Linked DNA regions of Homo sapiens: region 1 is linked to region 2. The links come from fine-mapping of genetic effects on gene expression. A gene starts in region 2. The other region holds a variant in brackets. All regions are shown on one strand. Distances are from middle to middle. Region 1 overlaps ARHGAP31 (Rho GTPase activating protein 31). Region 2 holds the start of POGLUT1 (protein O-glucosyltransferase 1).

The links.
Region 1: its variant is fine-mapped to the expression of POGLUT1 in whole blood (INTERVAL, PIP above 0.99).

What each region holds. Positions count from the first base shown.
Region 1 is chr3:119,418,950-119,423,273 of GRCh38, forward strand. It overlaps ARHGAP31 (Rho GTPase activating protein 31), which reads left to right. Exons shown (of 12, transcript NM_020754.4): 12 at 1-1,765. Among named protein-coding and RNA genes, the nearest start is that of TMEM39A, 43 kb to the right of the region's middle. The variant A/G (reference allele first, on the strand shown) is at 1,972.
Region 2 is chr3:119,466,631-119,471,029 of GRCh38, forward strand. It overlaps POGLUT1 (protein O-glucosyltransferase 1), which reads left to right and starts at 2,333. Exons shown (of 11, transcript NM_152305.3): 1 at 2,333-2,476; 2 at 3,190-3,280. The coding sequence starts at 2,392. RefSeq lists enhancers at 1,997-2,497, 2,190-2,359 and a silencer at 2,410-2,609.

The DNA.
Region 1 (4,324 bases), 48 kb before region 2:
TAGCCTGGCACTGATGAAATTCCATTCTAAAGAAAGAAAACTCATATTCCTCCCCCCCACAAATTGTTCCCCCAAATGCTCTGGGATTACCTATTTCACCACTCATTTGAGTCTCCGAAAAATGAACTCCCTGAGAATGGCTGGATGGGAATCAGATAGTCTGCTTCCATTCAGGAGAGGGACAGAACAGGAGCTGCTGTGTTTAGGAGGATTTACCTGGTGCCCTAGAAAGGGCTATGCAATCAAATTCTCAAGGGCTCCTTCAAATCAGCTATCAGTCCTCAAAATGGGGGTTGCTGATGTTAAATGATGGATTTGCAGTGAAACGCATGCATGTACTGACGTTTTCTTTCAGCATTAGTGGTTGCTTAAGAAAATAGTAACCTATATTTTCTGCTACACTTGGAATATGAAGAAATCTGAACAAGAACCCCATTAAGACACCTAACCTAATCTAAACCCTAAAATTCAAAATATTGTCCAAGTCAAAAGTCTAGACTCTGAGGACATTAAAAATGTAAATATCATCATCCTTAGCAAATATTTATTGGGAGCTTAGTAATAGTGCACTGGGTACCTTAGCACTCCCAAATCATTCAAGAGTCTAGTGAAAAAGGGGGAGGGATGGCAGCAAATAAAACACCCCCATAAACAACCAGGAGCAAGGTTGAGAACCATTAAGTTGCCAAACAAAAGCAGAAGGGGAAAAAGTGTGGCAACAAGCATCTTTTAATAGGATAGTTGACGGTATTCAAGTGACCTACTGACTCCAAATAATCAAATTGAACACAATTGCAAATCCAATAGAACATCCCAGTGAGACACTCGGGTATTTGAGAACTTTGCTTGATTTAGAAAACTGGAAAGTGGCAACTAGGCTAGAATAGTGGCAACTAGGTTCGGAGGTTTCGTGTGGTCATAATTGGTTTGGTGAAGTGTGAGATCTCTGCAAATGAGCCAGGTAAGATCAGTATTCCATAGTGCTTGAAAAGGGGATTTTAGAGACTTCTGTCATCACAAAGCAGATTAACTCCTAGTTAATGATGAAGCAGTAGGCCCAAGATAAACTGTTCAATTCAAGATAAATTGTTCTTGTCAGTGTTTGGCATATGATAATCACATTTGGCTAAAATTGGATGGGACAGTCATTTGTCTACACAGGCCTTCCATTCCTGCATGAAGAGATACTGGGGAGCATACAATTATTTTGTCCAGTATTAGAGTGGGAGAAGTTCTCAGTAAGTCCAGTCCCACCAGGATTTATTTGGGCCACATTCTACCACGGCCAGTCCAATCTGATGACCACATGAATTGGGGTTAAGTGTTGCTAAGACTATGATTTTAGACATGTCTGGCAGGAAGGTCAGCTCAAAATGTGGCATGACAAAGAATATGTGCTCTACTACCAAAACCTTTCCTAGCAAAACAAGGCCAGAAGAGGGAGCAAGCATCTTTCCAAGCATGGAGAGGAGGGGGCAATGGTGGAAGGGTGATTGCCTGAAATCAGTGCCAGTACAGATAGCATAAAATTGGGGGCCACCACAGATTGGCTGGCTACTGTGTAGATCATTTAGTAATCTTGAGGTACATTAATAATGCAGAGATTACTTTTCTGTGAGGGTAAGGGGGACGTAGCTAAATATAAGAAGCTTACAAGGTCCATAGCCATGTATTTTACTGGATAAATCACAATGCTTTGCAATAACTTAATGTCATAGTACTTTCTGGCTTATAATTCTGCAAAGTAAAGCACTTTTTCAAAGGAGTCTATTGGAAAGCCACATGATTTCAGCTGTGTTTTAAGCTCTACAAATACGTTTCCAAAGACATAATCAAGATGTAATTCTATTCATTACAAATATAAATATTAAAACTATCCATAGAGACATTTAAGTAATTAAAACAGATTTTTATGCTTTAAAAATAAATACTCTAATAAATGATATAAAATATAATGCTTATGATGGAACT[A/G]TGAGCTAGAGGAGGACATGGGGTCACCAAAATCAATAATCAGAAAAGTAGATTATATGCACCAGGTTCATTGTTTTAGTTTGTTCTGTTTGATGTCATTTTTTGTTACTTCAATGTTTGATCTCACAGAAAAAGTCCGTGATGATTTGCTTCAGTATATTTTTCTTGTTTTTGTTATTTTACGTACTAATAATTGCCAGATGTCTGCAACTTCACCCTTTTACTGTTGCAGACACATAGTCATGTCACTCAGGAAACCCCGCGTAAGTCCAGGCTATCATAATGAAAAATGAGAAGAATAAAAGCTCATTGCTTCTCAAAACTCCACAGCTTATGGAGGCACATGGGTCCACCTGCACAGATGTGAACTCAACTTTTCTATTACTTGAATCAATCAAAGGGGACTCTTCTTTTATTTGAGTAATTATGTTAATGATGCTCTAGGGGGAAAGGCAAACATTTGTTGTCCTGGCATATATCCTGTTATATATATGACCACAAAGGTGGGGAGGGGGAGGTGAACAATCCTACAACCTAGGTTCACAACCTAGTGATATTTGCAGTGAAACATTTGTAGTGATATTTCCCCTTTCATTGCCAAGGGGAAGAAAACACTACCATTTTGGCAACAACTTTCTATTTAGAACCTTACACTACTCAGGCCTGCTCCTGCTATCCTTCACTACTGCCCTAAATGCCTTTTTCTCCTATATACTCCCCGATCCGCACACTCTTTGGTTTTTCTCCTGAACTTCCCCCAACCCCAGTCCAACACACAGTTCCCCTCACTTCCAGTCTTTCCCATGTTCTCTGGAGTCACTTTCTCCTTATAAACTCCCCTGCAGTCCCAGTCTCTTCACTGAATGTTGTTGCCACTTCCTGGACTTCAAGAAAACTCGTGTGAGAACACTTCCTTCCCTCCACAAAAGGCTGAACATGTGCCCATGCGCCCATATTATGCAGACTTGTACGAACGGTCAGAGGATGTTCTCCCAGGTCCTCACTTCTACTTCTGCACCATTGTTTCTTCCCATCCCATACAAAAATCCCTCATTACCAAAATGTATGGATCCAACTATTTTAACTTTTATCATTTGTGGCCATGGTTATAGTTAATGTCCCAGATTCCCCAGTCTTGGGTACCAATCTCCCTGTTTCCTTCTACCTCATGTCCCACCATCATCCTGGATGACTTCAGTGTTCTAGAGGAAAGCCCACCCAATACCCTTGCCATAATTGCTTATAGAGGAAAGCCCACCCAATACCCTTGCCATAATTGCTTACAGCTTTTTCCCTCTACTCAGTTTTGAACATTTGCTTCTAGGGTTACACATCAGGCTATTTCACAATAGAGAATTTTGTGATCCTAAATTCTCATTTTCCTTTTTCAGAACTTTCTCTAGCCTTACTACTTTATTCCTTGTATTTGTGCAAGATTACCATGCCTGCCCCCACAACCTCCTCTGATAGACAGCACTCCCACCACACTTCATAATTCCTTCCCTAGCCTTTCCAGACTTAAGGTGCATCATCCCCACTGTTCTCACCAGGACCATTAACTCCCTTAACCACTAGTCCTTTAGCCACACCTGCTTGACAAACCTCCAACCTGGAATCTGGACTCTTATCACACATCTCTGCCCTTTAACTGTGTCTATGGGTTAGATCAGAGAAAATAATAAAACCACAATATAAAAGCTTTTAGATATTTGTGGTCCACCACCCCAAGAGCAGCCTCATTTCCAAAATCTTCAATGGCTATTCCACAACCCACAATGGCTATTCCACTATTCTTGACTCTCTCCTAGACAACTCTTTCTTCCCCACAAATAATTGTTATTGCTTCATAAGTTTATAATATCAGACATCTTTATTCAAGCTCCCACTGCTATTTCCCCTTACCTGTATATGTGTGTACCTAACCTCCCTTCTAGTTCAGAGGAAGTGTTACCCCTCTTTCCAAGAGCTCCCAGGCTTCTGTGTTCCCAGTCTCCTGTAATCCACTATTCTTCCCTATGTATTGAGCCTTGCCCTCTTTGATCTTTAATCCCTCAGCATATAAACATGCCAAAGCCTATTCTATCTTAAACAAAAGTCTTCCTCAATTCTGTCCACTTTTATCACCTTGTGTCTAGGTTCTTGGAAGAGTCATCAGTGTCATCAATGCTCAATTTCTACTTCTTCATTACAATTCACTATTCTGGACCAATGGCAGCCTGACCTCGGCCCGCATAGCTCCGCTAAAATTTCTCTTGCTAACGTCACCAATAGTCTAATATCCAAATCCAACATTCACTTCTCAGTCTCTAGACTTCCCTGTTATATGTGATCCTATTGATCATTCCTCTTTTGA
Region 2 (4,399 bases):
ATGATGTTCACACAACAAAATTGCCTGACACATTTCTCAAAACATATTCCCATTGTCAAACAACACATGACTGTACTGCACACCTTCCTGGAAGTAGAAAAATTTTTGACTAAAGTTTCATTTGGATTCCAGAAGAAATATGCTATAGTTTTGGATATACATTTTTTTTCCTGTCTGTTCACCCAAAGTGAGCCTCACTCATACAAAAACTGGGTGGTTCTGCCCTGGTGGAATATAGACCAAATGCCCATATGGGTGTAATATGTGACCGATACGGCCCATTCCTAGGTAATCAACATTATTTTCTCTTCCACCATTCCTTAACGTGCATCCTAAAGCCTCCACTACTGTCAAGCTAAATTTGATCCCCACCTTCTGCAAATTATGGCTCCCATATTTTTAGTGACTCCAGCACAATATTCCTTAACTGTAACGTTTCCTTTTCTTCAGTACAAAATATACCCCTCCTACCCCTTTCTCCAGATTTCCACTTCATATTGATCTTTTCCTCCACTGAAACCAGTGGCACTTAACTATTGCCTTAAATTGTAAACTATCTCTAAGGAAGCATATTTGTCTTCCCTACTAGTTCTAAACTCCTGGGAGCACAGATTTGATCTTGTACTTCCCTGTATTTCCATATTTCCACAAGGCTTAGGGATATAACCATGTACATTTTAGAAAATAGATAAATATTGCTGGGCGCAGTGGCTCACGCCTGCAATCCCAGCACTTTGGGAGGTCGAGGCTGGTGGATCACCGGAGGTCGGGAGTTCGAGACCAGCCTGACAAATATGGAGAAACCCCATCTCTACTAAAAATACAAAATTAGCCGGGTGTGGTGGCGCAAGCCTGTAATCCACCTACTCAGGAGGCTGAGGCAGGAGAATTGCTTGAACCCAGGAGGCGGAGGTTGTGGTGAGCCGATATTGAACCATTGCACTCCAGCCTGGGCAACAAGAGCGAAACTCCATCTCAAAAAAAAAAAAAAAAAAGAAAATAGATAAATATTTGTAGTTCTATGATTACTAAATATATCTACACTGACCTATATATACCTGTATAAAGATATATACCTGTACTATACTATATACCTATATTGTCCAGTATCATGTTGCCCACTGTCAAGAAACAAAATTTCATCAAATTTAGTTTAAAGTTCTTGGCCAGGCATGGTGGCTCACGCCTGTAATCCCAGCACTTTGGGAGGCCGAGGTGGGCAGATCACCTGAGGTCAGGAGTTTGAGACCAACCTGGCCAACACGGTGAAACCCTGTCTTTACTAAAAATACAAAAATTACCCGGGCATGGTGACACACTCCTGTAATCCCAGCTACTCGGGAGACTGAGACAGAAGAATTGCTTGAACCCGGGAGGCAGACGTCATAGTGAGCCAAGATTGTGCCACTGCACTCCAGGCTGGGCAACAGAGTTAGACTGTCCTCTGTCTCAAAAAAAAAAAAAAATCGAATTGGCTTTTATTAGTGATTCATGAATCAGGCAGCATCTCATCTATAAAACAGAAAAGTGTTCTAATGAGCTGAGCAGAAGGGGTTGGGCTTATAGGCAGAAAAGGGCTGAAGAAAGCAGAAATAAGGAACAAAAAGCAGATTGGTCATTTTGAAGTTACTTTCCTCAAAGAGTTACATCAGAGGGGACTTCTTTATCATGCCAGCTCAGGTATATGGGCCCCTTCTCCTATTTGTTGGAAAACTGACCCCTTTTAAAGCTGAGTTTAATTACGCAGCACCTAGGACAAGTTGCCTCCATTCTGGTTTTGTCTGCTCTCTTGAGGCCTAGTGCCAGAGTTCTGTCCAAAACAACGACCTCCCATAAACTTTATTTAACACCATTGATCTTTTTTCCTACGTCTAAGTCACCCCAACTGTTATAAATTCCTATTACAAAGGGATCCCTGCTATGCTAATTGCAACCTTTGGGGTCTAACCGTGCTGTACACACACACACACACACACACACACACACACACACATGCTCAACAAATTTATGCTATTTGATAAGAGGCAATTTGACGTCAAGAGAAGAACTGTTTGGCCTAGGCTCTATGCCAAGTCTTGGTTGTGCCACTAACCGTGAAACATACCCTCTCTGACCTTCAGTTTTCTGGCTGCAGACCTATTTTCCCAGGGGTGCCAGGGAGGGAGGATAGGCAACTGGTCCATTCGTTTATCCTCCCCACCTTCCCGGCGCAGCCTTCTCAGGGAAACTCCGCCTCAAGGCTGGGGACTGGAGGAAGGGTGGTGGGGCCACGGTGGCCATCTTTGTGCGGGGCGACCCGCCGCCCACGTGCTGCGGCTCCCGGGCCATCTTTGTGCGGGGCCGCGCTTCCGCCAGCGCCGCAGCGGGGAATCTGCAGTAGGTCTGCCGGCGATGGAGTGGTGGGCTAGCTCGCCGCTTCGGCTCTGGCTGCTGTTGTTCCTCCTGCCCTCAGCGCAGGGCCGCCAGAAGGAGTCAGGTGGGCTCCGGGCAGTGCCGAGCCTGCCCCTTGGGCTCGGGGTCTGGCCGGAGTCCCGAGGCGCTCCCCCGCGCGGCCGGCTCCCGGGAAGATGCCGTGGCCGCTGTAGCTCGGAGCTGGGCAGAAGGCACCGGGGCGCCTTGCGGCGGAGAGTGAGGTGCCGGGGTCTCTGCTCCTGCTCTGGACCCTGGAGAGTAACCCATTCCCCGGAATTCAGAATGACAGGGAGGAGAGGGAATTCCCCGTTCACCCGCAGGAGGCGTGGCCCGTGCTTGGCTACTCTGGACCTGCCTGAAACACTGAGGGGTCGGGGATGGGGGCAAATGTCGTGCGCGCGAGCGTGTGTGTATATGCGTTGCCAGAAGAGAAGAGGGGTTTAATGTCTGTAGCTTTTAACTGATCCTCTTTGTGGAGTTCAATTTGATTAGTAGAAAGTGAGAGTCCGCGTCACTATCCATAGCATTCTGAGGGTTGAGCATTAAGCTTGGGAATTTTCCAGTTTCTTGGACACCTGACAGCCGGATAGAGGAACAGACTTGACGTGAGCGTGGGAGTTGCACACACAAAAATTCCTCCCTAGCGTTTCGTTTCCATCAGTGGGATGGGAAGGGGATTTCTGAAAGTTTTGGTCTTCTGTTTCTTCTGTTGGTGTGGTGTCAGCAAATAACATTCAGGAAAATTTTTTTAACTCTCATTTACTTCACTTTTTAAAGGTTCAAAATGGAAAGTATTTATTGACCAAATTAACAGGTCTTTGGAGAATTACGAACCATGTTCAAGTCAAAACTGCAGCTGCTACCATGGGTGAGTTCTTTTCTTTGATGTGTCTTTGAGAGTTTAGTTGCTGTCACAGGAAGTATTCTAACATCCTTGAGAGATTTTGGTTGCAGTGGTCAGAAAGGCAAGGATGTTTTTCTATTTCTGGGGAATAAAAATGCTCTCGCATGGGAAAGGCTCAGGTGGTGTCAACCTAACCACTGACTCACTGCGGGATTCAGTGCATGTGCATCTGTTTTTCCCACTGGGCTGCAAGCTTCCTGAGGTCAGGGTCTGTGTCTTATTTGCTGTTGTCTCCCTGGTGCTAGCTGTCAGTGCGTGCTCGATAAATATTGTTGAGGAAATAAACCCATCTATCGCTGAATCTAGTCCTAAATTTCCTGATGGTTATCTTTAGAAAATGCACATCAGGCTGGGCATGGTGGTTCATGCCTGTAATCCCAGCACTTTGAGAGGCCAAGGCAGGTGGATCACCTGAGGTCAGAATTTCGAGACCAGCCTGGCCAACATGGTGAAACCCTGTCTCTACTAAAAATACAAAAATTAGCTGGGCATGATGGCACGTGCCTGTAATCCCAGCTACTCGGGAGGCTGAGGCAGGAGAATCGCTTGAACCCGGGAAGCAGAGGTTGCATTGAATCCAGATCATGCCACTGCACCCCAGCCTGGGTGACAGAGTGAGACTCCGTCTCAAAAAAGAGAGAGAATGCACATCAGGGCCGGGATGAGGTATGGTAGAAAGATAACTCTGAAAACAGACTTGGGTGTTGGTGCCGGTACTCCCACTGGTTACCCCTGTGCCGAGCCACTTCAACTCCTCTGGGTCTCAGATTCTTCATCAGCTAAATAACAGGGTCTTTTAAGCTCCTTTTTATGTTATTTTTGACTCCTCAAAAAATTCCTTGGATGCTTATGATACTTATTGAAAACTTACTATGCACTCACTTTAAAAGGAATACAAAATAGTGTAATTTTGGTTACTGCTGTCACGCTACCAGAGTAAGGGCTTGTGGGGGAGAGTGTGGACCAGACAGACCAGAACAAGAGAGTCAGTGCTAGACTGTAAGGCGTAAACTTCACCTCCTGTGGGATTGGGAGGAGATGCCAGGAGGACTGAAGTGACTAGAAGGACACAGGTGTGGCATG